Homo sapiens: one gene and its partners. The protein of the gene in region 2 interacts with the protein of the main gene of each other region in a pairwise test. Each region holds a gene or a part of one and is shown on either strand. Other genes may lie near its edges. The genes, in order: SPG7, NOTCH2NLC, VASN, DRD5, AGXT, TAPBPL and GNE.

The links.
Region 1: the proteins of NOTCH2NLC (region 2) and SPG7 interact in binary tests that used the Homo sapiens proteins (3 or more experiments, as listed by UniProt).
Region 3: the proteins of NOTCH2NLC (region 2) and VASN interact in binary tests that used the Homo sapiens proteins (3 or more experiments, as listed by UniProt).
Region 4: the proteins of NOTCH2NLC (region 2) and DRD5 interact in binary tests that used the Homo sapiens proteins (3 or more experiments, as listed by UniProt).
Region 5: the proteins of NOTCH2NLC (region 2) and AGXT interact in binary tests that used the Homo sapiens proteins (3 or more experiments, as listed by UniProt).
Region 6: the proteins of NOTCH2NLC (region 2) and TAPBPL interact in binary tests that used the Homo sapiens proteins (3 or more experiments, as listed by UniProt).
Region 7: the proteins of NOTCH2NLC (region 2) and GNE interact in binary tests that used the Homo sapiens proteins (3 or more experiments, as listed by UniProt).

The regions. Positions count from the first base shown.
Region 1 is NC_000016.10:89,546,075-89,550,345, forward strand, and holds part of SPG7 (mitochondrial inner membrane m-AAA protease component paraplegin isoform 1 precursor), read left to right. Parts: exon of another isoform or gene 1-102; intron 103-583; coding exon 584-686; intron 687-1,928; coding exon 1,929-2,039; intron 2,040-2,620; coding exon of another isoform or gene 2,621-2,643; exon of another isoform or gene 2,644-2,708; intron 2,709-4,271. UniProt on the Homo sapiens protein: Catalytic component of the m-AAA protease, a protease that plays a key role in proteostasis of inner mitochondrial membrane proteins, and which is essential for axonal and neuron development.
Region 2 is NC_000001.11:149,449,089-149,453,359, forward strand, and holds part of NOTCH2NLC (notch homolog 2 N-terminal-like protein C), read left to right. Parts: intron 1-4,271. UniProt on the Homo sapiens protein: Human-specific protein that promotes neural progenitor proliferation and evolutionary expansion of the brain neocortex by regulating the Notch signaling pathway.
Region 3 is NC_000016.10:4,377,852-4,382,122, reverse strand, and holds part of VASN (vasorin precursor), read right to left. Parts: intron 1,255-4,271; 5' UTR 1,246-1,254; coding exon 1-1,245. UniProt on the Homo sapiens protein: May act as an inhibitor of TGF-beta signaling.
Region 4 is NC_000004.12:9,780,031-9,784,743, forward strand, and holds DRD5 (D(1B) dopamine receptor), read left to right. Parts: upstream 1-1,603; 5' UTR 1,604-1,999; coding exon 2,000-3,433; 3' UTR 3,434-3,979; downstream 3,980-4,713. Other genes in the region: SLC2A9 (solute carrier family 2, facilitated glucose transporter member 9), read right to left, coding at 1-35. UniProt on the Homo sapiens protein: Dopamine receptor whose activity is mediated by G proteins which activate adenylyl cyclase.
Region 5 is NC_000002.12:240,874,553-240,878,823, forward strand, and holds part of AGXT (alanine--glyoxylate aminotransferase), read left to right. Parts: intron 1-556; coding exon 557-652; intron 653-1,382; coding exon 1,383-1,452; intron 1,453-2,984; coding exon 2,985-3,080; intron 3,081-3,469; coding exon 3,470-3,598; intron 3,599-4,161; coding exon 4,162-4,269; 3' UTR 4,270-4,271. UniProt on the Homo sapiens protein: Peroxisomal aminotransferase that catalyzes the transamination of glyoxylate to glycine and contributes to the glyoxylate detoxification.
Region 6 is NC_000012.12:6,458,230-6,462,500, forward strand, and holds the end of TAPBPL (tapasin-related protein isoform 1 precursor), read left to right. Parts: intron 1-415; coding exon 416-718; intron 719-2,625; coding exon 2,626-2,709; intron 2,710-2,894; exon of another isoform or gene 2,895-3,161; intron 3,162-3,804; coding exon 3,805-3,920; 3' UTR 3,921-4,087; downstream 4,088-4,271. UniProt on the Homo sapiens protein: Component of the antigen processing and presentation pathway, which binds to MHC class I coupled with beta2-microglobulin/B2M. Association between TAPBPR and MHC class I occurs in the absence of a functional peptide-loading complex (PLC).
Region 7 is NC_000009.12:36,241,265-36,245,535, reverse strand, and holds part of GNE (bifunctional UDP-N-acetylglucosamine 2-epimerase/N-acetylmannosamine kinase), read left to right. Parts: intron 1-4,271. UniProt on the Homo sapiens protein: Bifunctional enzyme that possesses both UDP-N-acetylglucosamine 2-epimerase and N-acetylmannosamine kinase activities, and serves as the initiator of the biosynthetic pathway leading to the production of N-acetylneuraminic acid (NeuAc), a critical precursor in the synthesis of sialic acids.

The DNA of each region.
Region 1 (4,271 bases), on a different chromosome or scaffold from region 2:
CCTTCCAAGAGCGTTCTCTTTTTTTTTTTTTTGAGACAGTCTCACTCTATCCCCCAGGCTGGAGTGCAGCGGCGCGATCTCGGCTCACTGCAACCACCATCTCCCAGGTTCAAGTGATTGTCCCGCCTCAGCCTCCCGAGTAGCTGGGATTACAGGCACCCGCCGTCTTGCCTGGCTAATTTTTGTATTTTAGTAGGGATGGGGTTTCACCGTGTTGGCCAGACTGCCCACTTCAGCCTCCCAAAGTGCTAGGATTACAGGTGTGAGCCACCGGGCCCGGCCATCCAACAGTGTTCTGTTCGTGTTTAAAATGCTGCTTGTGGCCAGGCATGGTGGCTCACGCCTGTAACCCCAGCACTTTGGGAGGCCGAGGCAGGTGGATCACTTGAAGCCAGGAGTTCGAGACCAGCCTAGCCAACTTTGCGAAACCCCGTCTCTACTAAAAATACAAAACTCAGGCATGATGGCACACACTTGTAATCCCAGCTACTTGGGGACCCCCCCCCCCCACAGACAAACATGCCGCACCTGTGGCAGTAACTAGGCTTGAGCCCGACTGTCTTTCCTCCCCTGGTTCTGGCAGGAGAGGCGGGAGATTTTTGAGCAGCACCTGAAGAGCCTGAAGCTGACCCAGTCCAGCACCTTTTACTCCCAGCGTCTGGCAGAGCTGACACCAGGATTCAGTGGTACGTTCTCAACCCGCAGCCTGGGCAGCGTCACGTCCTGAGGGCAGGTGGTGTCACCTGCGCAAACAGCATCGAGGCCTCCTCTGTGGGGTGGGCGCTGCTCCTTCTCTGGGGGCCTCTGCTCAGTACAAGCCTGGGAGGGAGCTGATGTGTATGTGGGGCAGCAGGAGGTCCAGACGGCACCCGCACTCCGTCCTCCGCCCCGGGGTGGAAAAGCAGACGGTGGTTCCCGGTCTGTGTTGTTTCCAGAGATAGTGGAGTTATGTTGCTTCCACACAGTGACCAGTCATGCCGGCGTTTCCCGTCAGACCCAGAGTCAGACCACGCAGTCCCGGCAAAGCCGCCTCCCTCTGACCCTCACGGTCTCTGTCAAGTTGTAGAAATAGAAATCATACCTCAAGATGCTTTTCCTGCTGTGTGGTTCACATTTTAAAAGTTAATGTCAACAAACCTCCCTTTTATTATGAGATGAATTTGCCCTTTGATTATTCGTTAGGGTCTTTCACTAGAATTTTGTGGTTACTAGAGAGCCTTTAATTTCTTTGCCATCAATGCTCATGAGCTGTTAGGTGGAATCAGCCACAAGATGGGGTGTGGAACTAACTGCCCTTGGGAGGAGAGACGGGCGTCAGGGCGGATGGAGCCTGGCGGTTCTGTGTCTCGTCTGTGGAATGGCCTCAGTGGAACACGGTGCAAGTGCCTGCCGCTCTCCCCACCCCTGCTCCTGGCGCCGGCGCCTGCCGCTCTCCCCAGCTCTGCTCCTGGCGCCAGCTCCCCGTGCCTCTCTCCCAGACGCTCTCACCAGCACTCTTGGTTCTTGGTCTCTTTTCCCTCTTTGTTCTTCCTTTTATTTATTTACTTATTTATTTTGAGACAGAGTCCTACTCTGTCGCCCAGACTGGAGTGCAGTGGCGTGATCTTGGCTCCCCGCAGCCTCCGCCTCCTGGGTTCAACCGATTTTCCTGCCTCAGCCTCCTGAGTAGCTGGGATTACAGGCGCTCACCACCACGCCCGGCTAATTTTTGTATTTTTAGTAGCAATAGGGTTTCACCCTGTTGGCCAGGCTGGTCTCAAACTCCTGACCTCAGGTGATCTGCCCACCTCAGCCTCCCAAAGTGCTGGGATTACAGGGGTGAGCCACCATGCCCGGCCATCTTTGTTCTCCCTTGAGGGCCCCTTCCTCCTCTTAAGCCCTGATAGCAGAAACCCACCCACCCACACCGTGGCTGTTTGTGTTGACAGGGGCTGACATCGCCAACATCTGCAATGAGGCTGCGCTGCACGCGGCGCGGGAGGGACACACTTCCGTGCACACTCTCAACTTCGAGTACGCCGTGGAGCGCGTCCTCGCAGGTACAGGGGGCGCGCCCTGGGTGAAGGCCCTCCTTAGCAGGGCTTGAACCCCAGAAATACCCAGGCAGGTATTGAGAGGTGAGGTGGATGGAACCATCACACAGGAAGGAACACACGTTGCGTTTCAGTTCTGCGTAACTCATGTCTTTATGATACCTTGTACTTTTCCTTAGTTTAAAATATCACAGATTTACCTAAGAGTAGACGCTCGTCCAACAGAAATAAAAAATGCCTTGCCAAAGAAAGTGAAAAAATAAAAATAAAAAATGCCCCCCAAAAATAAAAATAATAAAAACTAAAAATGTCTTGCCAGCCTGGGTGTGGTGGGCTCAGCCTAGCCCCAGCCTCATGGGGGCTGAGCTCCAGCCGCTGACTGTGGGCCGGAGGGCTGCTGCCGCCCGTGGCTGTGGAGGGACAGCCGTGCTTTCAGCGCAGCAGGGGCTCTGCGGAGAGGTGTGGATCTGCAGCACCACCTCTGGTGAAACTCATGGTCCCGACCGTCAGTAGGAACGGGAGATGAGTTTTGGTGACGGGTGACCGGTGGGCTGACCGCCTCTGACTGCCGTTCCGTGGCTGCTCAGTGTGGGGTCTGCGACGTCTGTGAGGAGAGAGGACCAAACTGGGAATCGGAGCTGCTGGAGGTTTCCATAGCTATGATGGCAACACCCAGACGTGATCAGTCATCTCATGGAATGGAGTTCAGACCCGCACTGTCAGTGTGAGACAGGTTGAACGTTTGAAAAGGGAAGTGGTTCTTGCCCCAGGTGTTTGAGGAGCACGAGCCTCCTTTGCGAGCTATCCCTGCGAGAACCGAGTTCCTCACCCTCAATTCGAGTGAATTCCTAGCACGAACACGCCTCTTGCAGGTCCCCAGGGCTTCAGCTTGGGAAAGCAGTGGGTTCCTGCAGAGGAGTGGGGCAGCTGCTGTGCCAGACACTGCAAAACACACCTGGCTTCTCTCCGACAGCCCTGCGGGTCGAGAGGACTGGCGCTGCCTGTGTCTTACTGAAATTTATTTTCGTGTAACCATTTACTTTTATGTGGAAATCGAAAAGCTTTTGATAATAGTAGCAAAGCAGGAAGGACTGAGTGGGAACCACAAGCCAGTTGAAAGAAAATACATGACGTACTTGAGTGCTCAGGACCACGAGCTGATTCAAGTTGTACAGAATGGACACTTACAGATGTGTGGAAAATCTGAGACAGGAAATGAAGCCTCACCAGTAAGCTGAACAGGGGAGATTTAATGCAAACATTTGTCCCTGGCTGGGCACTGTGGCTCATGCCTGTAATCCCAGCACTTTGGGGGCTGAGGCAGGAGGGTTGCTTGAGGCCAGGAGTTTGAGACCAGCCTGGGCAATACAGCAAGACCCCATCTCTTAAAAGAAAAGAATAAAGAGTATTAGCCAGGCATGGTGGTGGAGCACACCTCTGGTCTCAGCTACTCAGGAGGCTGCAGCAGGAGGATTGCTTGAACCTGGGAGGTTGAAGCAACAGTGAGCCGTGATCGCACCACTGCCCTCCAGCCTGGGCAACAGAGTGAGACCCTGTCACTGACAGAAAAAAAGCCTTGTCCCTGAGGCAAAAAGCTTCTGAAGGGGTGAGTAGAAGCCATAAGGATCCAGAAAGTGATGGGGATGGGAGCTGCGCCTCCAGGTCTGAGGGGAGAGGGAAAGTAAGCAGGAGGCCCGTAACTCAGAGGAGGCCTCTGCCCATCCTGCCAGGGAGAAAGTCAAAAGCTGCTGTTCTGTGACCCTTGCCCCGACCCTGTGGCACCCCCCCAACCATGGGGCAGGAGGAGACACTCCTCAGAGGGTTGCACTTGTTCCTAAAAGCAGCAGGAGCTATTTCGATGATTGCAACATTTATAAAAGAAGAAATCACGACCTCCTTCAACAGCCCTTTGACCTGAAGAGTGTCGTTTTGAGTTGGGGTGTCCAGAGCCGCAGCTGCAGCTCCAAGAGGCAGATGTGCAGAGAGAGGCTTGCTTTGACCACACGGGGCAGGAGCAGGGCCCAGCCAGGGAGAGGCCGGGGTCTCAGCTCACCCCCCCGTCATTCTTTTTTGTTTGTTTTTTGAGACGGAGTCTTGCTCTGTCGCCCAGCCTGGAGTGCAGTGGCATGATCTTGCCCTACTGTAACCTCCGTCTCTCAGGTTCAAGTGATTCTCTTGCCTCAGCCTCCCAAGTAGCTGGGACTGCAGGCGCCCGCCATCACACCTAGCTAATTTTTC
Region 2 (4,271 bases):
GCCAGGATGGTCTCGATCTCCTGACCTGGTGATCTGCCTGCCTCGGCCTCCCAAAGTGCTGAGATTACTGGTGTGAGCCACCGCACCTGGCCTAGCTGTAAAATCTTAATCTTTCTAAGCTTCGAGTTCCTCATATATAAAATGGAGATTATAATACGGCACTGGAGCGAGTAATACAAGAGACAATAGCTATCAAATGCTTAGCAAATATACAATACATAGTTAAGTACTTAGAAAATATGTTTTCAGTTACTTCGGGTATATACCTGGGAAGGGAGGCAGAAAATTTTGGTCATTCTGATTATTATTACTACTATTAAGCATAGAAGCACCACTAAAAAGGTGAAGAAGCCTGGAAATAACCCTATACTGAGGAATACGCCAAACCATTGAATCCTGGAAAAAAGAAAACAAAAGGCCCACATAACTATCTTCAGATTCTTGAAGGGCTACGTGTAAGAGAAGCAGAAGGCTTGTTCTTTTTTGTTCTAGAGGGTAGAGATAACCTGGAAATTGTAGAGAGACAAAGTTTGTTCTTTTCAAAATTAAGACATAATTTATGTATCATAAAATTTACCCTTTTAAAGTGTTTAATTTAGTAGACTTTAGTATTTCCAGAGTTATGAGACCACCACCATTATCTAATTTCAAAACATTTTTATCACCCTGAAAGAAATTCTCTACTGCTTAGTAGTCACTGTCTATTTCCCTTTCTTTACAGCTCCTAGCAACACTAATCTACTTTTTATCTCTACGGATTTGCATATTCTGGACATTTCATATAAATGGAATTATATAATATGTGGCCTTTTGTGTGTGGCTTCTTTCACTTAGCATGTTTTCAAGGTTCATCCATGTTGTAGCATGTATCAGAATGTCATTCCTTTTCATGGCCACATATTTCATTTATGGATATACCACATTTTATTTATCTGTTCATCAGCTTATAGGCATTTGGGTTGTTTCTACTTTTTAGCTATTATGAATAATGCTGCTATGAACATTTTTATTATGTGGGCATATGTTTTCAGTTATCTCGGGTATATACCTAGGAAGGGAGGCAGAATTTGAAGAATTAAGAAAGAGCTTTCTCACAGTGGAATCCACCACATTGAAGACTGTTCTTTTGTTGAAGTAGTCAGCCAGTAATTTCACTTAACAAATGCATAGTGTTTACTATGTGCTGGATAGTGTTCTAAGTGCTTTACCCTTATTTAAAAATCCTATGAAGTAGGCACTGTTATTACATCTCTTTTACAACAGGGAAGTTTAGTACCTTGCCCAAGATTACACATTGAGTAAATGGTGGAGTTGGGATTGAAATCCAGGTGGTCTGGTTCCAGAGTCTGTACTCTTAAGAGCAGAACAATAATAACTCCAAGCATTTATTAAATTCTCAAGATTTATCCGGCACCATGCTACATGCTTGTATTCAAGCAGAGGCTGGTGATCATCTTTTAGAAATATTTTAGAAATGATTACTTAATTGGATAGAAATTAAATTTCTTGAATCTGAAGGTTCTGTTTTTCCAAGGATGGCTGGAAATGGGGGAAAAGCCAGCAACAAGATGATGTCTGGCCTGAGGCTTTTAAGATGATCAGAATTTGTATCAAAAAGGAAACTGTGAACACGAATGATAAGTATTATAGGAATTCAGTTAACAAGTCTTGTCAGAATGTGGTAATAAATTATATACAACTTAAAGAGATGAAGTTACTTTAAATTGTGTGTGGAAGCCTTAGAAAAATTGAATAATTAAAGTTTCTTGGGAAGATGATCTCCTTTTACAAATGTTTAGTTTCAAATAGTGGCAGCACATATTAGGATAGAGAGATGACTTCTAGAAAACTGAACATATGGGACTGGAACAGTGTATTTTGGAGTCAGTTACAGGAAGGAAGTTGTTTAAAACCAAGTGAACAACAACAGTAACAAATGCATTTGAGAGAAAGAGCAGTGCAGTCCAGACTTAAACATTAGGGTGGCCATAATAGATGGGGAAGAAGGAGAAATCAGCAATCCAGACTAAGACTTCACTGGGTTTTGAGTTAGACAGAGGGAGTCATAGAAGCCAAGGTAAAATGATTAAAACGGTACATGGAGTGGTTAGCAATTCTCCCTATAGGAGAGAGAATTTCCTTATGAAGTTTCAGATGAGACCACTGAACTTGACTAGAGGAAAGTCATTGTTTTTAGAAAACAGTTTCTAAGCAATAATTAGAATTAAAGTTTTGTTGCAGAGGGATAAGTAAGAAGTAGATGGAAAAGAAAGAGAAATATCTGAAATTAGGCTACAGTCATAGAAGGTTAGCTGTGAAACAATAATTTGGAAAGGGAAATGGGACCTCATGAAAGTGTGGGTTAAAAGAGACTTGTATATCTTCTAAGGTAAAAGTAAAGAACTAAGCTGATGTCCAGCCCTCTAAAACATTTTAAATAGAAATCAAACTTTATTAATACAGTAGGTCTAGTTTCACGTAAAGCAAATATGTGGTTCTGTACACGGGCTTTAGGAGAGTAAGTCTGTTGTACCTCATATGTAAGTATTATCCCATTTAGAGGAAAACCCTAAGTCTTTCTTTACAGTGGCTTAAAGGCCCCAATTGATCCACATCCCAGTTACAGCTCTCATCTATTTTCTGCTGCTCCAGATATTCTTGCTGTTTCTCAAACACGCTAGGGCTGCTCTCTGTGTTATGGCCTTTGCATTTGCTGTTCCCTTTCTCATGAATGTGTTTTCCTAAGATACCTGCATGATTACTCTCACCTTATTTAGGTCTCAACTCAAGTATTGTCAGTGAAGGTCTTCTCTGATTTTCCTATTCTAAACTGAGATACTTCTCTTTGCTCACCCCACACCCTCATCCCCAGCTCCATTCCTTCCTGTTTAATTTTTTTTCACAGCACTTAACTCCATCTATTGTGCATCTTTTACTTAGTAATTTTGTTTTCGTCTTCCGCTATTAGAATGTAAACTCCAAGAGTGTAAGAATTTTTCTAGCACTGGAAAAATGCCTGGCACATAATAGGCATTTACTAATTGTTGTGTGAATGAACGATTATAAGTTTAATATTCTTTGTGGAAACTAATAAGGTTGATTTCCTATCAGAAACCGATCATTATTAATAAGCATATTGGATGGTATTTATAGAATTAGCCTTCATATGTTCTCTACTCAGAAGTTGGCAAACTTTTTCTGTAAAGTGCCAGAGAGTAATTATTTTTGCAGGCTTTGTGGTCTCATTACAGCTACTTGACTCTGTTGTTGTAGTGGAAAATCAGCCATAGACAATCTATAAATGAATGAGCATGGCTGTGTTCCGGTAAGACTATTTATGGACACTGAAATTTGAATTGTATATAATTTTGAAATGTCAGAAAATATCCTTCTTTTGTTCTTTTTTTCTAATCATTTAAAAATGTAAAAAACTATTCACAGGCCAAACAAAAACAGGCAGTGGTCCAAATTAGACTTGCAAACTGTACTTTGTCAATCTCTGGTTTTACTGATTTCTTAAATATATCTTAGGTTAAAACTTATTTTTCCATACTTGATAGGGAGCAACAATGTGAATTAAACTGTAGAAACAAATAATTCAGAAATACATCTGTTTAGCTTTAGAAACTTCCATTTTGCTTCATTTTTGTTTTCCTGGGAACCTTATATTTCCATTATATGTTTATGATGCTACCATTTAAATGACTTTGCATTCTCTTAGCATATGCCACATGATAGTGTTAGGGTGGTGTAATAGTTCAGGAGCAAAGCTGAGCAAAGCCCACCCACGTTTAAAAATTTGCCATTATTTAGAAGGTGCATAATTCCCATATGGGAGAATGAAGAGTCATCTAATAATGCCCAGAGGGCTGCACTGTGAGTGAGAATTGTGTTGCAGTTTTTAACATTCATAACACATTTCTTGAATAAGCTGCAAATGCTTTTAATAATATATCTCAGAGTTAATTTTAGCTATGCTACATTGGCACTTTTTGCTCCTCCACTTCAAAAAACCAACACAAGAAACTATTCTCAAATCAAGCTGTGATTTGGATGGGGCATTGTATTTTCCTCAATAAGCACAAAGAAGAGAGAAAAGATGTTTTCACTTGGCAAAACTTTTTTTTTTGAGATGGAATCTCACTCTGTTGCCCAGGCTGGAGTGTAGTGGCACAATCTCGTCGGCTCACTGCAACCTCCGCCTCCCGGGTTCAAGCAATTCTCATGCCTCAGCCTCCCGAGTAGCTGGGATTACAAGCGTGCACCACCAC
Region 3 (4,271 bases), on a different chromosome or scaffold from region 2:
GAGGCAGGTGGACGGTGGGCAGTCCTGGGGCTGGGGGACAGGCCCTACAGTCGGTGGGGCAGTGGAGGGCGGGCTGGGGGCCTCAGTGGCCGGCTCTGTGGGGCTAAGCCAGGTAGGAGCCAAGCTAGAAGACAAGGCTGTGGGCTCCCGCACCACGGGCCTCGTGGTGGGCACTGTGGCTGTGGTGGTGGTGGCTGGGCAGCCAAAGTCGGCGTAGTCAAGCTCCAGGAGCAGCCGGCCAGCGTTCTTGGGCGGGAAGTGGCAGCGCGTCTCCTCAGGGCTGGCCAGTGTGACGTGGCTCTCGCGCACCCAGGGGCCAAACCAGCTCAGGGGGCACACGCAGTTGAAGGGGTTGCGGGCAGCTGCCAGCAGCCGCAGGCGGGGGAAGAGGCCCGAGAGGTCGCCAGGCAGGGCCTGCAGGCTTAGGTTGCTCACATCCAGCTCCTGCAGGGCAGCCAGGCCGGCCAGGTCCTCGGGCCGCAGCTGGGCAATGCGGGTGTTGCCGGCCAGCCGCAGGCGCGTCAGGCCCCGGAGGCCTCGGATCACAGGTGGCACTCGCTCCAGCTGGTTGTCGGACACATCCAGGTCGTGGAGGTTGCGCAAGCGGCTGAAGAGCCCCTCGTCCAGCTGCTGCAGCCCCAGACCAGCCAGCCGCAGCGCCTCCACGTTGGCAGTGTCCAGGATGCCGGGCTCCAGGGCCAGGAGGCTGTTGTGGCTGAGGTCCAGCAGCAGCAGGCGGGGCAGGCGCAGCGGGGGCAGTGCCCGCAGCTCGTTGTCCTGCAGCTTGAGCTCCAGGAGGCGGTCGAGCGTGTCGAAGGCACCAGGCTGGATGTGGCGGATGCGGTTCTTGCCCAGGTAGAGGCGCTCGAGGCGCCGCAGGCCACGGAAGGTCTCATTGGTGATTTCATGCAGCCTGTTGGCTGTCAGGTCCAGGTTGCTGAGGTTGGCGAGTGGCTGGAAGACCCCGCTGGGCAGGCTGGCGATCTGGTTCTGTGACAGGTCCAGGAGCTGCAGGCCCGGCAGGCCGGCAAAGCTGCCTGCGTCGAGCATGGTGATGCCGTTCTCAAAGACGTACAGCCCCACCGTGTCGGGTGGCACGTCTCGGGGCACCGTGGTCCCCTGGCGGGCAGTGCAGAAGACTGTCTGTGGCTGGCTGCACTGGCAGCCGGATGGGCAGCCCTGCACCCCAGGCCCCAGGGCCAGTAGCAGGAGCAGCGGCAGCAGCAGAGGGACCCTGGAGCACATCTTCTGTCCCTGGGAGCAGAGAGGAGGCAGAGACAGAAGACTGTGAGTCAGGGGCCTAGAAGGCAGACACGCCAGGAAGAGCCAGAGGGAATTCACTGCTTCTGCCCCCAAATGCAAGAGAACCCAATGGTTATGAGTCAGGTCGCCAGTGCCCCGACCCAGGTTCTGTCCCAGCCCCGTCACTCCCTCACTGTGTGACCTTGTCAATGCACACAGAGGTCATCATGGGGCATGACATCCACTGAACGTGCAGTGACCATGCACTGCTTCCTCCTGAACCCCAGGCCCTCCTGCCTCTGCCTAGGTAGGTTCCCCCATCCCCTGCCTCAGAGATGGACCAGGAAGGAGAGAATGGTGGGACTTGGAGCGGCAGCTCCTCCCTACAGGGTCTGGAAGAGGGGGCAGGCAGGCAGCTGGGTGGGTGTGTAAGCAGAGAAGCTGGCTGCCTTGGCCGCCGGCTCCTGCTGCCACGCTCCGTGTCCCGCCCTCCTTGGAGGAGGGAATGCAGCGGGAAGACTTCACATGGAAACTATGGGATCCATGTTTTTCCACTTGGGCAGTCAGACCTGCTTAGGCTGGGGGCTGCGGGCCGCCAGGAAGTGGCCGGCGGGAAGGTTCCTGGAGGAGGGGCAGAGGCCACAGGCATTGGCAGGTGTCCCCTGTGAGGGAGGGAGGCGGGGAGCTGAGGCTGGTGACAGAGCTGGAGCTGGGGGGCCACAGGGCTCAGGTGGGGACACTGGCTACATGGCAGCCCCAGGGGCAGTGCCAGGCCTGGGAAAACTCTGCAGAGTCATTCATCTACTTTTTTTTTTTTTTTTTTGAGACGGAGTCTTGCTCTGTCACCCAAGCTGGAGTGCAGTGGCGAGATCTCGGCTCACTGCAACCTCTGCCTCCCAGGTTCAAGCAATTCTCCTGCCTCAGCCTCCCATGTAGCTGGGACTACAGGTGCCAGCCACCATGCATGGCTAATTTTTGTATTTTTTTTTTTTTTTTTTTTAGTAGAGACAGGGTTTCACCATGTTGGTCAGGTTGGTCTGGAACTCCTGACCTCAGGTGATCTGCCCGCCTCAGCCTCCAAAAGTGCTGGGATTACAGGCATGAGCCACCGTGCCCGGCTTCGTCTACTGTTTCTTGGGGTCTGCCCTGAGCTGGGCACCAAGAAAGATGAGCAGCAGCCATCCCCTTGGCAGTGATGGTGCAAGTCCTTCCCATGTGCCAGCGAAGTGGGAAGGACGAAGGAACACTAAGTGTTTACCGTCACCTCAGGTAGCCCCCCAGCAGCCACGTCAGGGCAGACAGAAGAAAGCAGGGCTCATGGAGGTGCAGGGACTCGCTGCCATTGCGGTGCCAGCAAGTCCGAGCTAGAGCCCAGGTGTGCAGCAGCCACCTGTGAAGGGTGCGTGCCCTCCAGATGGCCCTGGGGGCGGGGGCTCCCACCAGCCGCTCCAGGCTCCAGATCTTAGCTGCACTGCCCAAGTCAGGCAGGTCTGTGGCTGGCCCCCATCACCTAGACTCCTGGGGAGACCGCTGGGGCCGTCCCCAGGAAGAGCCCTCCCCACTTTGGCACCCCTAGAAGTCCCTGAGCCTCATACGGGGTGCCAGCCCATCCCCAGGAAGCATCCTGCCCAGTGGCGCCTGCAGCTCACACAAGAGCCCTTTGTGCTGGAGTCCGGGCTTCCCCTTCCCCCACACAGGCTGTGCAGGTAGTCCAGGGAACACGACCCCGACCCAGCCTGCACTCCGCCCCAGGCTGGGGGGACCCGTCCATAGGGCTCCCTCTCCCCCAGGTACGTGGGTTCCTGGAATGTGAGGAGGAGCAGGTGGTCCCAGGACAGATTAGACAAGTCACTGGTGAGGTGACCACTGGGGTCTGCGGGTAGCTCGAGGTGAAGGAAGAAGCCCTTGTCCCCGGGGTTGGGCCCACGCAGGCCCTGCCCACGTGTAGTATCGCACTGCCAGAGTCGTCTCCCCTAGGAGCTACCGACCCTGAGCCCCTAGCCAGTTAGCGACAACAAGCACCCTTCAGAGGCCAGCAGGCTAAGCCTCCCCAACCTAGCGGTGTCCCCCTTGCTGTCGTGTGCCCCCTCACCTCCCTAAGGTGAGACCCAGCCTGCCTTTGCCATAGGTGTCTCCAGGCCCACTTAGCTCAGGTCTGCTGAGTGAACAGCCCAGGAGGGCCTGGCACTGAGCACTGGAAGAAGTTAGCACCCCAAACCCCAGGCACGCGTCCCTGGCCCGGCCAGCCCACCCCAGGGGGGCTCGTGTCTGATGACCTAAGGCCCTGGGGCCACACCCCTAGCCTTCTCTTCCCCCATGGGACCCGCTCCACCCTCACTGACTCAGAGGACGGCGGGTGCGGCCTGGCCTCCAGATGTGGGCTGTGAGTGACCCCCACCCACCCCATGTCCATATGGGGGGTGAGGCCACCTCTGCCTGAATTAGCCCTCCCAGCAGGGCCAGACCAGGGTCAGGAAGGATGCAGCCAGGTTCCAGAGTGGGAGGGGATCCTCCACGTGGCCAGCCTGGCCAGCCTGGCCACCACTGTGGCCGCAGCTCCCCTTGGGCCTCGTTTAAGGTCACAGTTAAGAGCGCTCACTCCAGGCAGGCGGCCCTGTGCTCAGAGGTGTCCAAGCTGTGAGGCCGCAGACAGTGACTTTGCTCTCACACCTCGGTTTCTTCATCTGAGTATCTGGGACACTTCAGGGCTGCAGTGGGGGATGCATGTGGAGTCCTCAGCCCTGCAAGGCCAGGTGTGCAGGCCAGCTCTTAGGGGCACGTGCTGGGGGGTGCTCTTCACCCTGCACTGGGGAGGGGGACCAGCCATAGCTCTGGGCTCCGTAATCTGTTGGGTCTTTAATCAGCAAGGTTGTGAAGGGAGAGGGGATGCTGTGGGTCCATCTGGCCACAGGGTGGCTTTCCGGCTGACAGGTAGTGAGCTGTGGAATGTGCGTTCCTGTTAGCAGGACAGGGGTCTAGGTCAGGACTGTGGGCTGGGGTCCTGGGCTGACCATCCAGCAGGCGGCAGC
Region 4 (4,713 bases), on a different chromosome or scaffold from region 2:
TGTATTCGGAGTAGTGAAAGGAGAAGAAGCAGGAGCTGTGGACAAAGACAAGGGCAATATGAGGAAAAGACCTTGCATGCCTGGCCAGGAACAGGGGCCACAGGGAGCTGATCATGAAACACACTGACGGTGTTTCATCAGGGGAGTGACATGAACATAGTCACATTCAGGAAAGATCACTGCCTGCTGGGAAGACAGAGGGTCAGGGCAGAGACTGGAGGCCAGGAAAGTGCCACCATCAAACAGGATGGAGGAGGCACAATTCTGGACAGGGATGTCCATGGCCAGAGGAGTGGTCCAGCTCCCAGAAGATGAGGAGAGACCAGAGGTGAGGATGGCCCTTCAGTTTCAGGTTTAGGCACCTGGACAGATGGTCTTGCCCTCTCCAGCGGCAAAAAGCACTGAGGGGGAAGGAGGTTGGGGGAAGGGACTGTGTAGGCTGAGCAGCTTAAGTCTGAGAAGGTGGGCCACTTGCAGATGTTGGTCCAGGGTACAGGTGCGTTTGGTGGAGGGGGAGACTAGGAAGGGAGGAGAAAGTCCAGTCTGTTTCTAGACCTCACCATGCTGCAGGTGTCTGGGCCAGCAGGTCGCAGCCGGAGCTATGCAGCTGGCTGCTGTCACATCCCTTTCTCTCCCAGCTGCCTTCAGCTGAGCTTAACGCCAGTAGAGGCCGAAACACTTCACAAATGCAACTTGTCAGCTGGGAGGTGCACTCAGAGCTCAGGAACACTGTTTTCCCTCTTTATTGTTTTCCATCATTCTTTTTTTTCAGTTTGGGTTTTGGGCCCCGTCAGTTCCTTTTCTGTTAAACACTGAGCTATTTATCCATCCCTCTCAAGGTTGAAAAAGAGAAAGGCTGTAAAAGTGCCCTGCAAAGAAGAGGCCTCCAACTCTATGGGGGTGGGGGGCTCTCTTCCTCCTCTTGTCTTCTGAGTTCATTCCGAATTATTCCCCAAAGGAAAAATCGTTCAAGGACTGGGGGCGGTGGTGGGGAAAAGGACAATCTCCCAAGAGGTCAGCTGAAGCCCCAGCCTCAGGGTGTTGAGAGAGGGGCTGGGGGAAGCGGGAGCCTGTTCCTAGGAGACACTGTCTACTGGACACCTCATCCTAGACGGCTTCCATGAGTTCTGACACTGTCCCAGGAGTAGGAATCATTATCCCACGCTGTGGAGAAGGAAACCAAGGCCGGGTAAAGTTATGTAGGGCCCTTAAAGTCGCAGAGCCAGGAATAAAGTCCGGATTGGGACTCGGGTCTGTGGGTAATCCAAGGCTGCCCCGCTTACCCTTCAAATGCTCTTTCCCCCTCCGGAAGCCCTCGCGTCCTCATCCTTACCCCACCTCTTGTTCCCCAAGCGTGGCCAGGGCTAAGGCTCCAGGGATGCGCCAAGCACCCTTCGGTTTTCCCGGGGAGAATTTTCCCCGGCCCGGGGACTAGGGTCTGGCGCTGGGGCGCCCCTCGGACCTGCGGGATCGCCCCTACACTCTGGCGCGCTGAGGGCGGTGAGCGAGGGCGCCAAGGCACAGGTGGGGCGGGAGTCGAGCGCGGAGGCTCGGGGGGCGGGACGCGGGGCCTGGGAGCGGCCAGGGACCGCGGCAGCGCCTCAGTGCCAGCCTGGCGCCCGCGACTGCCTGCCCCAGCCCCTCAGTGGCGGCTTGCTCTCTTCTCTCGCTCCGAACCAGACACAGCCGCTGCCGCTGCCGTCCGGCGCGCTACAGACTCCCGAGAACAGCCCTGGCTGTCAGCGAGCACCAGCCGCTTCCTGTCCCCATCGCGGAGACTGGAGGGGCGCACCACGGCCATGGAGCCAGAGGCGCTTCAGGAGGCAAGAGAAGTCCCCGCGCGCTCCGCAGCCCGGCGCAGCTCATGGTGAGCGCCCTCTGGGGCTCGAGGGTCCCTTGGCTGAGGGGGCGCATCCTCGGGGTGCCCGATGGGGCTGCCTGGGGGTCGCAGGGCTGAAGTTGGGACCGCGCACAGACCGCCCCTGCAGTCCAGCCCGAAATGCTGCCGCCAGGCAGCAACGGCACCGCGTACCCGGGGCAGTTCGCTCTATACCAGCAGCTGGCGCAGGGGAACGCCGTGGGGGGCTCGGCGGGGGCACCGCCACTGGGGCCCTCACAGGTGGTCACCGCCTGCCTGCTGACCCTACTCATCATCTGGACCCTGCTGGGCAACGTGCTGGTGTGCGCAGCCATCGTGCGGAGCCGCCACCTGCGCGCCAACATGACCAACGTCTTCATCGTGTCTCTGGCCGTGTCAGACCTTTTCGTGGCGCTGCTGGTCATGCCCTGGAAGGCAGTCGCCGAGGTGGCCGGTTACTGGCCCTTTGGAGCGTTCTGCGACGTCTGGGTGGCCTTCGACATCATGTGCTCCACTGCCTCCATCCTGAACCTGTGCGTCATCAGCGTGGACCGCTACTGGGCCATCTCCAGGCCCTTCCGCTACAAGCGCAAGATGACTCAGCGCATGGCCTTGGTCATGGTCGGCCTGGCATGGACCTTGTCCATCCTCATCTCCTTCATTCCGGTCCAGCTCAACTGGCACAGGGACCAGGCGGCCTCTTGGGGCGGGCTGGACCTGCCAAACAACCTGGCCAACTGGACGCCCTGGGAGGAGGACTTTTGGGAGCCCGACGTGAATGCAGAGAACTGTGACTCCAGCCTGAATCGAACCTACGCCATCTCTTCCTCGCTCATCAGCTTCTACATCCCCGTTGCCATCATGATCGTGACCTACACGCGCATCTACCGCATCGCCCAGGTGCAGATCCGCAGGATTTCCTCCCTGGAGAGGGCCGCAGAGCACGCGCAGAGCTGCCGGAGCAGCGCAGCCTGCGCGCCCGACACCAGCCTGCGCGCTTCCATCAAGAAGGAGACCAAGGTTCTCAAGACCCTGTCGGTGATCATGGGGGTCTTCGTGTGTTGCTGGCTGCCCTTCTTCATCCTTAACTGCATGGTCCCTTTCTGCAGTGGACACCCCGAAGGCCCTCCGGCCGGCTTCCCCTGCGTCAGTGAGACCACCTTCGACGTCTTCGTCTGGTTCGGCTGGGCTAACTCCTCACTCAACCCCGTCATCTATGCCTTCAACGCCGACTTTCAGAAGGTGTTTGCCCAGCTGCTGGGGTGCAGCCACTTCTGCTCCCGCACGCCGGTGGAGACGGTGAACATCAGCAATGAGCTCATCTCCTACAACCAAGACATCGTCTTCCACAAGGAAATCGCAGCTGCCTACATCCACATGATGCCCAACGCCGTTACCCCCGGCAACCGGGAGGTGGACAACGACGAGGAGGAGGGTCCTTTCGATCGCATGTTCCAGATCTATCAGACGTCCCCAGATGGTGACCCTGTTGCTGAGTCTGTCTGGGAGCTGGACTGCGAGGGGGAGATTTCTTTAGACAAAATAACACCTTTCACCCCGAATGGATTCCATTAAACTGCATTAAGAAACCCCCTCATGGATCTGCATAACCGCACAGACATTGACAAGCACGCACACACACGCAAATACATGCCTTTCCAGTGCTGCTCCCTTTATCATGTGTTTCTGTGTAGTAGCTCGTGTGCTTAGAAACCTCACCCCATTGATTGGTAGTTCGAAGAATTGGCAGAAGCAGTTGCAATAAACTCAGTCAAATGTACCCAGCCTACCAGAGATGGACCAACGATCCTATGAGAGAAGAGAGTATGGTGCTGGGTCCTTAAAAAAAAAAATGATACTTGGTCCTTAAAAAATATGCTCTCCCCTCCCTTTTTAAACAAATGGCTTGTTCAGTCACTTGTTTGTGTTTGAATTGATTTTTAAACAGCAGGTTGTGTGTGTGTGCAGTGATGTGGTGGGAGCACAGCTTTCCTGGGTCTGGATTCCCGTGGCTTTGTGCTTATGTCATTTCTTCTCTCTGTGCTGGTGGGGGCCTCTTTACCATAGCTTAAGAAGTATCCCTGATTTATTCTGGTGTCTAATAAACACAGATTATTTGTATTATGGGGTGACTATCTTTGCTTTGCTACATTGGGTTTCAGGATTGCTTCTGAAGAAACGATGAGTGCATCCTTAAAATGCAAAGAAGATATTTGCTGGGTCTGGAAGTACATGCTTAATCTCTTTACAGTTTGGCCTTAAAGATACACCAGGGCAAAGGACCTTGAGGAGCTTCTGTTTTCTCAGGTTTCTTTTTATTACTTATACCCATGTTGGGTCTGTGCTGAAACCTGGCTTCAATGGCATGGCATTAGATCTTCTCAAGACCAGATGTTTTTTTTCTCATATGGAATCTTTTTTGAAGTAACATAAGACAACTCTCCTTATTCCTAGACAGATGCGATCAGTTCATTGAAAAGATCATGTAGAATAATATCTTGAATCTTTCTCCATCTGACAACTGTAGCATGTTTTAGAATGACATGGCTTTTGAGAAATCGTGTTTTCTGAAGAGCTTTGAAATGTGTGAATCAAGATGCTTTAAAAAAGAAACTCTATTTTTAAATAGGCATTTTCCTTAGTGGACAATAGCAAATAGGGAAATGCTTTTTAAGTAAAATGTAGAAGCCAGAGATGAAATGTGAATGAACTTGAAATTGGAAAATCTGTAGGTCGAGGTGCTCAATAGAAAAGCCCGGCTGACTCCAATCATTTTGTTTTTCCTCTCTGCAGTGTGCACAGCCAAGGGGAGTGTTTTATTCCAGACCCACACCAGTTGAGAGCATATTATTACC
Region 5 (4,271 bases), on a different chromosome or scaffold from region 2:
GAGGTGCCGTTCCCCAGAACAGAGAGGACTTCGGGGAGAAGTCAGGAATTCGGTGTTGGACGTGGGAGGTCTGAGATGCCAGCTGGACCACACGGGAGGGTGAAGGAAGCGGCTGGGTGTGAGTCAGGAGCCTGGGGAGAGGCCGGGGCTGGCCCCTCCATCTGGAGTTGTAGAGACGGACACATTTAAAGTTTCAAGCCTGGCCAGTGTCCCCTGGGGCCCGAAAGCAGTCACCTTTGGGTGATGTGAGAAATGAAGGCTGACCCTGTAGGAGGGGCTGGGGGAGAGAAAGGGGCACACAGAGTGGAGGGAGCTGGCCTTGGTGCCCCCATGGCAGGGTCACACAGCTGGGCCCAAGGGCCAGCGGGACTGGACAGCTGAGGGACCCACGACCCACCCGGTCCCACTCTGGCCCCTGAGCACAAATGCAGCTGGGGCGGGCCCTCCTGGGGGCCCCACCCCGTCTCACTCCCGTGAAACAGGACAGCCAGCGAGACTGCCCTGGCCTTCAGCCCAAACTGAGAGGCTGGTGCTCAGCCTGCTTCTTTCTCCCCAGAAAGAAGATGTACTCCCGCAAGACGAAGCCCTTCTCCTTCTACCTGGACATCAAGTGGCTGGCCAACTTCTGGGGCTGTGACGACCAGCCCAGGATGTGAGGCCTGGCAGGGATGGGAAGGTGGAGGGCGCTGGGCATGGCTGAGAGGTGGGGCGCTGGCCTCTCACTGCACTCAGGGATTCTCCAAGCCCCCCACCTTCATGCCTCAAGAACCCCAACTAGAGCCCCAGAATCCGCCTGCATCAGGCAGTCAAATGCCCCACCCTGGGTTCCCCCATTCCTCGACTGGCCCGAGGCTCTGGGCAGGGTCATGGCCCCCACTGCCGCTTCCACAAACACTGTCCCCCCAGAGGTCCCAGCACACCCTCGGGCACTTTGGACCTGGCCCTGCCACATCTCCCCACTCCTGGGCCTCAGCTTACCCCTTCTGAAAAGACGACCTTGGCCATAAACCCAAGGCCCCTTATGTTACACACAGGAACAAGGCGCCAGGAATGGTGCCCTAGCCCAGTGGGCACAGAGGGCCAGTGCCGGCTTCGCAGGCACGCTGGGACTGAGGGGCTCCGCAGGGAGGTGGTGGCACGTGTCTCTGCTCCTGCAGCCACCCACTGCCTCCTGGCTGGGCCCTACACAAGCCATGCTCTCCCTGGCAGACGAAGCTGCCTTCCCGGTCCAAAGTTCTGAACCCGGACAGGACTCCTCTGCGGAGGATACCGGCCTGTGGTCAGAGAGCCTGTGCTGTTGGGGCTGGGGCAGACAGAGCTAATGCCCCATCTGCCCCCAACCCTGCCCATGGTGCTGGACCAAGCCCCCTCGTGTCTTCCAGGTACCATCACACAATCCCCGTCATCAGCCTGTACAGCCTGAGAGAGAGCCTGGCCCTCATTGCGGAACAGGTGCATGGGCTGCACTCCACAGGAGGAGACAGGGCCACTGGCTGGATTGTCGAGGGCGCGGCCTGCAGAGAAGGAACCATCCCTGGTGCACAGAGAAAAGGGAGCCTGCCAGAGAGAGGCCCTCAGTGGGGGTGGGGGAGAGAGGACAGGGCCCCGGGTACACTGGCTGCGGGCAGGGCCAGGGGGATACAGCCCCAGGGACAGATGCAGCAATGGGGCAGGTGTGGATGCTCCCAACCCTTCCATTGCTGTGTGAAGCAGTAAGTGAGGCCCAGTGAGTGGGTGGGCTGGGAGAAGGGGAGGCCGAAGGGGCCAGAGATGTGCCCACAGATAGGTGGGCGTGGATGTAAAGTGAGGGTTGGCAGTTCCTGCAGGCTTGTCCAGCTCCTATGGCAGGGCAAGAGCTGAGCATGAGCACTTGGGTGTGACCAGGGGTTGATTTGGCCACTGCAACATCCACACTCTCAGGACACTGCAACATCCACACTCTCAGGACACAGGCGGCTGAGAGTGGCCTCAGGCCCAGCAGCTCTGCAGGCCACGAGACAGGAAGTCCCACCTACTTTCATCTGGGTCCTGTGTCCCACAGGGCCCATTGCCAGCCACCAGTCCAGAGTCCAGGAAGGATCCCCGGGCTGCAGCCAGCTTCCCATGAGGTTGCAAGGCCGTGCCTGCCACGTTTGTCCTCCTGGGTCCACTCATAAAGCCACTGCCTAGGGCTGGGTTAGTGCCAGGGTGCCCCTGTAAGCTAAATGCCACCCGCACCCGCGGGGGAAGGCGAGGGGTCAGGCGCTCACACAGGGAAAGGCTCTAGGGTCGTAAAGGTGGGTGGGGGGTGTGAGCTGGGCAGAGAAGGAAGAGAACAGGACCAGACAGCAGGGCACAGTCAAGGGCAGAGGCACAGGGACCTGGCAGAGTGCAGATTGCAGGGGCACATGCGCAGAGAAGACGGGCCAGGGCCAGAGTAGAGAGCAGCTGCTGCTCCGGGGACCCACCTGGGGTGGCCATGAGAGCTGGTGGCTGGAGGCCGGGAGGACCCGTGACCAGAGGTAATGGCACTGAGGGGCCCAGGGCTGGAGAGACCACCCCTCACCTGTCCAGAGCTGAGGCAGGAGCAGTGCTGCGGAGGATGCCAGGTCGGGGGAGCTGGCCCTGAGAGGAGAGGGGGCCTGGGAGCCAGCACCCTGAGCCCTGGCCCTGATCCACTCCAGCCCTGTGTAGCCCAACAGCCCTTCCCCTCCTTGCCCAGTCCCCTCCCCCTGCAAGGCACTCTCCACTCTTCTCCCCCAGGGGCCACAGGCAGACCTCCCCTCTGTCTCTCTGAACCCTCCTCTGTCTCTCCCAGACCCAGATGTTTCCTTCTGCCCTGGGGTAGTCCCAGGCCCTGCCCCAGGCAAAGTCAAACTGGGGGCTCCAGGGGCTCCCCTGCACCAAGGCCTGCAGAGTCAGGTTCTTCCTCCCGCACCACAGAGGGCGGGGCTTCCTGCCCACCCCACCCATGTCACTGCCCACCAGCGCCATCTCCCACACAGGGCCTGGAGAACAGCTGGCGCCAGCACCGCGAGGCCGCGGCGTATCTGCATGGGCGCCTGCAGGCACTGGGGCTGCAGCTCTTCGTGAAGGACCCGGTAAGGAGGCCCCTGGCATTGGGCAGCCCTGCACCCATGGGGAAGGATGAGGGGCTCTTGCCCAGCCCCCTCAAGAGGGACACTGGCTCCTGAGAAGGAGGGGGCGGCTGCCCGGTGGTGTGGCCTCGGTGCCAGGGATTAGTCTCGGCAGGAGCCACGAAGTCACAGCTCCCGGCCTCTGATGCGGGATCTCAGGACGGCCTGTGATCTCCCAGTGGGAAGGTGCCCATCCACCGCCTCCTAAGGGGTGGGGTCCCTGCTCTCTCCCGGCCCTTTCTCCCCCGGCTCCTCTGGAACCTGAAGCTGGGGCAGATGGTGCAGGCCAAGAGCTGTCACAAAGGCCCGTACAGGGCCTCTCACCCACGCACTGAGCCAGGCCCCTCCTGCAGGCGCTCCGGCTTCCCACAGTCACCACTGTGGCTGTACCCGCTGGCTATGACTGGAGAGACATCGTCAGCTACGTCATAGACCACTTCGACATTGAGATCATGGGTGGCCTTGGGCCCTCCACGGGGAAGGTGAGAGGGAGCGCCTCGAGGGCCTTTTGCAGAAACCAAACCCGCCACCCCTCCTTGAGCAGGACTGTGCACCAGGTGCAGGGGAGGCCGGGGTCATCCGAAAGCCCAGATTGCAGGAGCGTCCAGAAGGGCCCACTCTCCAAGGGGTATCCAGTAAAGCGTATCCTGTCGCCCCTGCTCCCACCCCAGCCCACTGAGGTCACCAGGTGCAGCCTTTATGATTCCACTCGGAACATCCTTCCTTCCCTCTGACCAGACCCTGGAACCAGGCCGGAAGCCCCACGCCTGGGCCTGGCTGTGTCTCTGAGTGGCAGTGGGGAGGGACCTTCACTGCACCACCCTGTCCTCCCGTGTGGCTGCGGGTGCAGAGGGAGGAGAGCCTGCCCTGGCCTGGGTGCTCAAGGGCCCCCTCTGTGACCTGCACAGGGCTGTCAACTCCCCTCATGGACGCTGGGTGGGTGGTCCTCACTCAGGTGAGCCCATCCTGGCTCTGGCCAGCTGTCGGTCAGGGTCAGGCAGGTCCCAGGCGGGAGGCTGACGTCAGCCCGCCCTGTGCCCCCCAGGTGCTGCGGATCGGCCTGCTGGGCTGCAATGCCACCCGCGAGAATGTGGACCGCGTGACGGAGGCCCTGAGGGCGGCCCTGCAGCACTGCCCCAAGAAGAAGCTGTGACC
Region 6 (4,271 bases), on a different chromosome or scaffold from region 2:
GCTAGGCATGGTGGTGCGCGCCTGTAGTCCCAGCTACTCAGGAGGCTGAGGCAGAAGAATCGCTTGAACCCCGGAGGTGGAGGTTGCGGTGAGCCAAGATCATGCCACTGCACTCCAGCTTGGGCGACAGAGCAAGACACCATCTTAAAAAAAAAAAAAAAACTGGCTTAGAATGACAGTAAGAAGCCAGCCAATCTTTAGTTGGCTTTACTATCTGTTTTCTGGAAAATGTAACCCTGCCCCCTTACGGCCTGCATCCAGGTGGGCCCCTCACACACCCCCGCCTTGGTACACCACCAAGGGACACTGTAGCCTCCACAATCTACTCTCATCTTGGCAGGAAGAAAAGGCTTCAGGCTCCTCCGCTGTCCCCAGTTAGATCCATGTGTAATCTTATTCCTCATTCTTTCTCCAGCTTCCCCTAAAGTACGACTGAGCTTGGCAAACGAAGCTCTGCTGCCCACCCTCATCTGCGACATTGCTGGCTATTACCCTCTGGATGTGGTGGTGACGTGGACCCGAGAGGAGCTGGGTGGATCCCCAGCCCAAGTCTCTGGTGCCTCCTTCTCCAGCCTCAGGCAAAGCGTGGCAGGCACCTACAGCATCTCCTCCTCTCTCACCGCAGAACCTGGCTCTGCAGGTGCCACTTACACCTGCCAGGTCACACACATCTCTCTGGAGGAGCCCCTTGGGGCCAGCACCCAGGTTGTCCCACCAGGTACTGGGAGTGTCCTCCTTTTCCCCACCTCCACACTAGGGCTCATGGCTCTCCTGCCCCAGCTCATCTATGGCCTTGTTCTGCTGCCCATCCACTTTGTTCGCAGCCCTGGCTTCATGCTCCTGCCTCTGCTCCTGACTATTTTCCCAAGGCGGCAGCTGCCACAGCTTCTACCACACATCCCCTGAGACTTCATTATACTCCAGCCTCCAGGGTGTCAGGCAATGTGCTTAAGGCTGGAGATCACAGATGAATAATTCCTGATCATGCCCTCCAGGAGCTTAGTCCAGTAATAGAGACAAGACTAAGTAGACAGAGAAGATGGCATTTGAGCCAAGTTAACTAGCTTAGAGGGAAGGGAACACTCAAGATAGAAACAATAGCATATATGAAAGCCAAATCATAAAACAGCCTAAAGAGAATTTGGAGAATTGCAAGTAATTCAGCACAGCTAGAGCTTAGGGTATATGGGAAAAAGGGAAAGTGGCTCTGAAGCTTCGGAGGTAATTCTATTTATTGAGCATTTACATGAATCAAGCAGTGTAGAAAGCACTTAAATGTATGATTTCATGGATCATGACTCCCATTTTACAGGTGAGTAAACTGGCACTTGCAGATGTCAATGAATTTGCCCAAGGTCACCTATCAATCAATGGTAAAGAGAGAATGTGAAAAACAGGCAACCGGATTCCCCTTACGGGCTTAATTAAACCCTGTAGATCTCACTGGGCCTTCAAGCTGGAACTTCCTGAGAGCCATAGCATGCTGTTGAAAGGTTTTATTTATTTATTTATTTATTTATTTATTTATTTATTTATTTTATTTTATTTTACTTTTTTTCGATACAGAATCTTGCTCTGTTCCCCAGGCTGGAGTGCAGTGGTATGATCTCAGCTCACTGCAACCTCCATATCCTGGGTTCAAGCCATCCTCTTGCCTCAGCCTCCCAAGTAGCTGGGATTACAGGCGCGCACCACCACGCCTGGCTAATTTTGCGTTTTTAGTAGAGATGGGGTTTCGCCATGATGGCCAGGCTGGTCTCAAACTCCTGACCTCAGGTGATCTGTCCGCCTCGGCTTCCCAAAGTGCTGGGATTACAGATATGAGCCACCGCACCCTGCCTGTCGAGAGGTTTTAAGCAGGAAAGGGACAGGAAAGAACCCGCAACTTGAAGTGGAAACATCCAGGAGCACTGGGCATTATTTGGTTGCTCATTAGACTGTGAACTTCCCCAAAACTGAGGTTTCACTTCAGCTCACATCATTCCCCAACTATTTACAAAATCCCAGTTAACTGGTGGTTTTTTGTTTTGCTTTGTTTTATTTTGTTTTGTTTTGAGATAGGGTCTCACTCTGTCGCCCAGGCTGGAGTGCAGTGGCACGATCTCAGCTCACTGCAAACTCTGCCTCCCAGGCTCAAGTGATTCTCCCACCTCAGCCTCCCAAGTACCTGGGACCACAGGCGCACACCAACATGCCCAGTTAATTTTTTGTATTTTTTGTACAGACAGGGTTTCACCATGTTGCCCAGGCTGGTCTCGAACTCCTGACCTCAGGTGATCCACCTACCTCAGCCTCCCAAAGTTCTGGGATTACAGGCATGAGCCACTGTGTCCAGGCAAGTTAAGTGCTAACAAATAAACCCACCTAAATCTCACTTGCAAAGCAATTTTTAAAACCTTGTCCTTAGGTGGGAAGAGGTAGAGAATTCTGTGTGGAGTAACTCACAAGTATCCAGCAACCTTGAATAAGAACAAATGCTGCTGAGTGCCTTGTTCCAGGCTCCTCAACCAGGGACTCACACACACAATCCTTAGCTCCTCCTCCCTGGGGTGGACACTGCAGGTGAGGGCTCAGCTCATGATTCCTGCGCACGATGATCCCCGCCCACGTTGCTCTCACCTACAGAGCGGAGAACAGCCTTGGGAGTCATCTTTGCCAGCAGTCTCTTCCTTCTTGCACTGATGTTCCTGGGGCTTCAGAGACGGCAAGGTAAGAGCCTGGGTGCCCTTGGCTCTGGCCCTGGCCCACCTCACCCACTCTAACCACCCCCCCGCCCAGACCAGGGTGGAAGCCCAGATGCCCCAAGCTCCAGCCACCCACCCATCACAGCCTCCTGCTTTTGAGTTTGCCCTAAATGAAAATGAAACCAGTCGTGTTCCCTCGTTTTCTCCTAGCTACCTCACTAAAGTCTGTCACTCTCCTGCCTCAGAGTAGAAAGAAAGAGTAGTCACGTGCTCCCAGAAGGACTCTAAGTCAAGTCACAGAGCTAAAAATACATGAAGGTGGCACCAGCTCATGGGGCACTGGGCCTGGCTCTGCAGAGGCCTCTGCCTTCCTTCACTGTGCACCCTGGGCTCATGCACCAAGGCAGAGAACAGGAAGAAGTGAGGGGACAAGAAGAAGGCAGAATGTCCAGATGGAGGATAAGACCAAAGAGCCAGGTTGGTGGTGTGACGGTAGGAAAACAAAGCTGGAGGAAATGGAGAAGGAACAAGTGAGGGACAATGAGGCATGGGTTGGGGCTGGGCTACCCCTCCCAAACTCAGCTCTGTCAAAATAAAAGGCCCTTGTGTCTGCTGCGACCAAGCTTTTCCACTTTCCTGTCTTTCTCCACACTGGTCCCAACTGAGCCCTGTCACCAAGCCTAGCGGCTCCAACTTGCAAAGTGTTTAAGTATGAAACAAAGGCCCTCAGAGGCACCCCCGTGGCTCCATCTCAGTTGCACCTCAGCTGCAATTAGGGTTCTGCTCCCTCGGGTGACTGCTGGGAGGTTCAGGATACCTGCAAATGCCTCACTCCCTCAGCTGCAAGGAGAGACTTCTCCTTTTTATTCGTTTCTAAAATGTGCCTAATCAATACGGTGGAACTCAGCATACCAAAACTGTACGTGAGGATGATGGGGAAAAGGGGGTAAGGGGGTGTTCACTGACAGCCTTATCTGGGCACATCCCCTGGGACAGGACAAGCAGGCCAAGGACCTAGGAAGGAGCACAGGAGGCAGATGGAAGAGGCCTGAGGGAACCTGTGCTTGTTTGCCAGTGTGAGATGCCCACGCAACTTCCTGTCTTCACTTCCTCTTACCAGCACCTACAGGACTTGGGCTGCTTCAGGCTGAACGCTGGGAGACCACTTCCTGTGCTGACACACAGAGCTCCCATCTCCATGAAGACCGCACAGCGCGTGTAAGCCAGCCCAGCTGACCTAAAGCGACATGAGACTACTAGAAAGAAACGACACCCTTCCCCAAGCCCCCACAGCTACTCCAACCCAAACAACAACCAAGCCAGTTTAATGGTAGGAATTTGTATTTTTTGCCTTTGTTCAGAATACATGACATTGGTAAATATGCCACATGCCTTTGGTGGAAGTACAACTGTTGTTATTACTCTATACAAGTATGAGATCAGGGTTAGGAAAAAAAGACAAAGAGGTGATGACAGACACACAGTGGAAACCCCACATCGTCTCATGGCAAACCGAAGAACGGGATGTGGGAAGCTCAGCTTCATTTGACTGCAAAGTCCCAGGGTTTTGTTGCACATTTGCTCATG
Region 7 (4,271 bases), on a different chromosome or scaffold from region 2:
TGACCGGCTAATTTTTCTATTTTTAATTTCACCACGTTGGCCAGGCTGGTCTCGAACTCCTGACCTCAAGTGATCCGCCCACCTTGGGCTCCCAAAGTGCTGGGATTACAGGTGTGAGCCACTGCACCCAGCTGTAATCTGCCATTTTACTAAAAACTGTAATAATGGAATGGTTAGGAAGTATGTACACCAAGTCATTTATTATATTTATTTCTGGTGTGGGATTATGGGTGTTTTTATGTTTGATTTTCTGAATTTTTTTTTTGTTTTTTGAGACAGAGTCTTGCTCTGTCATCCAGGTTGGAGTGCAGTGGCACAATCTCGGCTCACTGCAACCTCCACCTCCCAGGTTCAAGCGATTCTCCTGCCTCAACCTCCCGAGTGGCTGGGATTACTATGCCTGGCTAATTTCATATTTTTAGTAAAGACAGGGTTTTTCCATGTTGGCCAGGCTGGTCTCGAACTCCTGACCTCAGGTGATCCGCCCACCTCAGCCTCCCAAAGTGCTGGGATTACAAGCGTGAGCCACCGTGCCTGGCCTGATTTTCTGAAATTTTTTACTACATTGGCAAAATGGTCATTTTTTTTTTTTTTTTGAGATGGAGTCTTACTCTGTTGCCTAGCCTGTAGTGCAGTGGCTCAGTCTCGGCTCACTGCAACCTCCACTTCCCGGGTTCAAGCGATTCTCCTGCCTCAGCCTCCTGAGTAGCTGGGGTTACAGGCGCACACCACCACACCTGGCTAATTTTTTTTTGTATTTTTAGTAGAGACGGGGTTTCACTATGTTGGTCAGGCTGGTCTCAAACTCCTGACCTCATAATCCGCCCACCTCGGCCTCCCAAAGTGCTGAGATTACAGGCATGAGCCACCGCGCCTGGCTCATTTTTATTTTTAATGCTTTTCTTATAGAATTGTTGGAATACTCAGATTATGAATGTTGGAAGCAGTAAGCCATAAGTACTTATTAATATAAGGGATTATGATGATTATTAAAAAGCAAAAGTCATAGTTGTAGCCTTAGAGTATATCTTTGTAAATAAGCCCTATGTTCCAAAATTTTTATTGTTCAGTGCTCTAGCTTCCTAGAAATTATCTTTTGCTAATCAGAGGTAAAAAAATCCAAGTTTACAAACAGAATGTCAGTTGGTTAATTTATAGTAAGAGTACTACCTAGGGGACAAATTAGGACTAATAATCTATTTAGGACCTTTCATTTCTAAGAGGCAGATCTATTGAATTATAAAATTAATGAACAGAAAATTGATTTGGTTGGGTCAGGTATGGTGGCTCACCCTGTAATCCCAGCACTTTGGGAGGCTGAAGTGGGAGTATTGCTTGAGCCTAGGAGTTACAAGGCCAGCCTGGGCAACATAGCAAGACGCTGTCTCTACAAAAAATAAGAAAATTAGCTGGGCGTGGTGCTGTGTGCATGTAGTCCTAGTTACCTGGGAGGCTGGGATGGGAGGGTCACTTGAGCCTGAGTAGTTGAGGCTACAGTGATCTGTGATTACACTGCTGCACTCTAGCCTGGGTGACAGAGTAAGACCCTGTCTCAAACAAAACAAAACAAAAAAAAACAAAAAACAATAACAAAAAAAAAACACAGAAAGAAAAAGAAAATTGAATAAGCAAAGAGATTTTGTATATTTTTAATCTAGATTACATTACATCAGGAAAGGAATTGGGCTTTCCTGCTATATAACGTACTCCATTCTACATATTTCTGTTGTTCAGTCTGGAGTGCAGTGGTGCAGTCTTGTCCTCCTGGGCTCAAGTGATCCTACCACCTCAGCCTCCTGAGTAGCTGGGACTACAGGCATGTACCACCATGCCCAGCTAATTTTTAAAATTTTTTTGTAGAGATGGGGTCTCACTATTTTGCCCAGGCTAGTCATGAATTCCTAGGCTCAAGCAATCCTCCTGCCTCGGCCTCCCAAACTGCTGGGTTTATAGGCATGAGCCACCGCACCTGGCCCATTCTAAATATTTCTTATGCTTGGACAGATTTGTAATTATCAAGGGATCGTCTAGATAATGCTGGTGGAACAACCTTCTGTCTCTTCAGTCTCTCCTTTTAGTATGCTTCCGATGAAACACTCTTGGATTCTGTTCTAATTATACCATTAGCTCTCTAGGTATTCTGGAAAACTTGTATCACTGAAAAACTTGTAATGAATAGAAAATAATAATGTGCCAGATGTGGTGGCACATGCCTGTAATCTCTGTACTTTGAGAGGCCAAAGTGGGCAGATCACTTGAGCCTAGGGGTTTGAGAACAGCCTGGGCAACGTGGTGAAACTCTGTCTTTACAAAAAATACAAAAATCAGCCGGGTGTGATGGTGTGTGCCTGTAGTCCCAGCTACTCCGGAGGCTGAAGTGGGAGGATTGCTTGAGTCTGGGAGTTCAAGACTGAAGTGAGCCATGATTGTGCCACTGCACTCCAGCCTCGGTGACAGAATAAGACCCTGTCTCAAAAAAACAAAACACTAGTTTTGGCCAGGTGCCAGTGGCTCATGCCTGTGACCCTAGCACTTTGGGAGGCCCAGGCAGGTGGATCACTTGAGGTCAGGAGTTGGAGACCAGCCTGGCCAACATGGTGAAACCCCATTTCTAGTAAAAATACAAAAATTAGCCAGGTGTGCTGGCACATGCCTGTACTCCCAGCTACTCAGGAGGCTGAGGCAGGAGAATTGCTTGAACCCAGGGAGGTTGCTGTGAGCCGAGATTGCACCACTGCACTCCACACTCCAGCCTGGGTGAAGAAGCGAGACTCCATCTCAAAAAAAAAAAAAAAAAAAAAAACAAGCATAAAACCCAGGCCAGATGCGGTGGCTCACACCTGTAATCCCAGCACTTTGGGAGGCCACGGCGGGCAGATCATGAGGTCAAGAGATTGAGACCATCCTGGCCAACATGGTGAAACCCCATCTCTACTAAAAATACAAAAATTAGCTGAGCATGGTGGCGCACACCTGTAGTCCCAGGTACTTGGGAGGCTGAGGCAGAAGAATTGCATGAAACCCAGGAGGCGGAGGCTGCAGTGAGCCGAGATCGCGCCACTGCACTCCAATCTGGCAACAGAGCGAGACTCCGTCTCAAAACAAAAAACAGCAAATAACCATTAGAAAGCAGAATGTAGCAAAATTGAATTGTACTTGTAGGGCTTAAAGTCCTATTTGGGACAATTTAAGCAGTTCTTTATGGAAAGAAGGACAACAGAACAGCTAAAATTGCTTTTTTTTTTTTTGGTCTTTAAACCAGTGAAAAAGAAAACTCAAGACAATGAGGCAGAGCCATCCACCACTGGGCAGTAATACATTTTATATAAAACCTGTTCCTGCTTCTTGATATGCAACTTCTTTTTTTTTTTCTTTTTTTTGAGACAGAGTCTTGCTCTGTTGCCAAGGCTGGAGTTCTGTCACCTAGGCTGGAGTGCATTAGCGCAGTCTCGACTCACTGCAACCTCTGCCTCCCAGGTTTAAGCAATACTCCTGCCTCAGCCTCCTGAGTAGCTGGGACTACAGGCGCACACCACCACACCTGGCTAATTTTTGTATTTTTAGTAGAGATGGGGCTTCATCATGTTCGCCAAGTTCGTCTCGAACTCCTGACCTCAGGTGATCCGCCCTCCTCAGCCCTCCAAACTGCTGGGATTATAGGCATGAGCTACCGCACCTGGCCTTAATATGGAACTTCTCATGCTATCACTCTGCTTACAGGAAGATAGGGTTGGGTAGGCCATATATAACATTGCAGCTTTGTAACCAGAGTGTTAATATATAACAATCTTAATTTTAAAATTAGCAATGTTAAAAAGGCATGTTAAATTCCTAATAATGAAAGGCATATCACAGTAAATATAGGACTTTACAACAGAAAACAAAATGCCTTTATGGAAAGGATTTATGAAAGGGCTGAGGCTGCTGAATTATGGATAGATACAAAGACTGGTAATAATATCAGAAGTGCCAGGTGGAGAAGCAGGTGCAAACTTTGTATGAAATGTATTCTTGCCAGGGATGAGTTGCTCTGGCTCATTGTCTTGCGTTTTACTTTTCCCTGGTCTAAAAAGACTTCTAGTTTTTGCTACTTTGCCATCCTTCTTTCATAAAGAAACTGTTGCTGGGCACAGTGGCTCGCGCCTGTAATCCCAGCACTTTGGGAGGCCGAGGCGGGCAGATCACAAGGTCAGGAGATAGAGACCATCCTGGCCAACATGGTGAAACCCCATCTCTACTAAAAAATACAAAGATTAGCTAGGCGTAGTGGC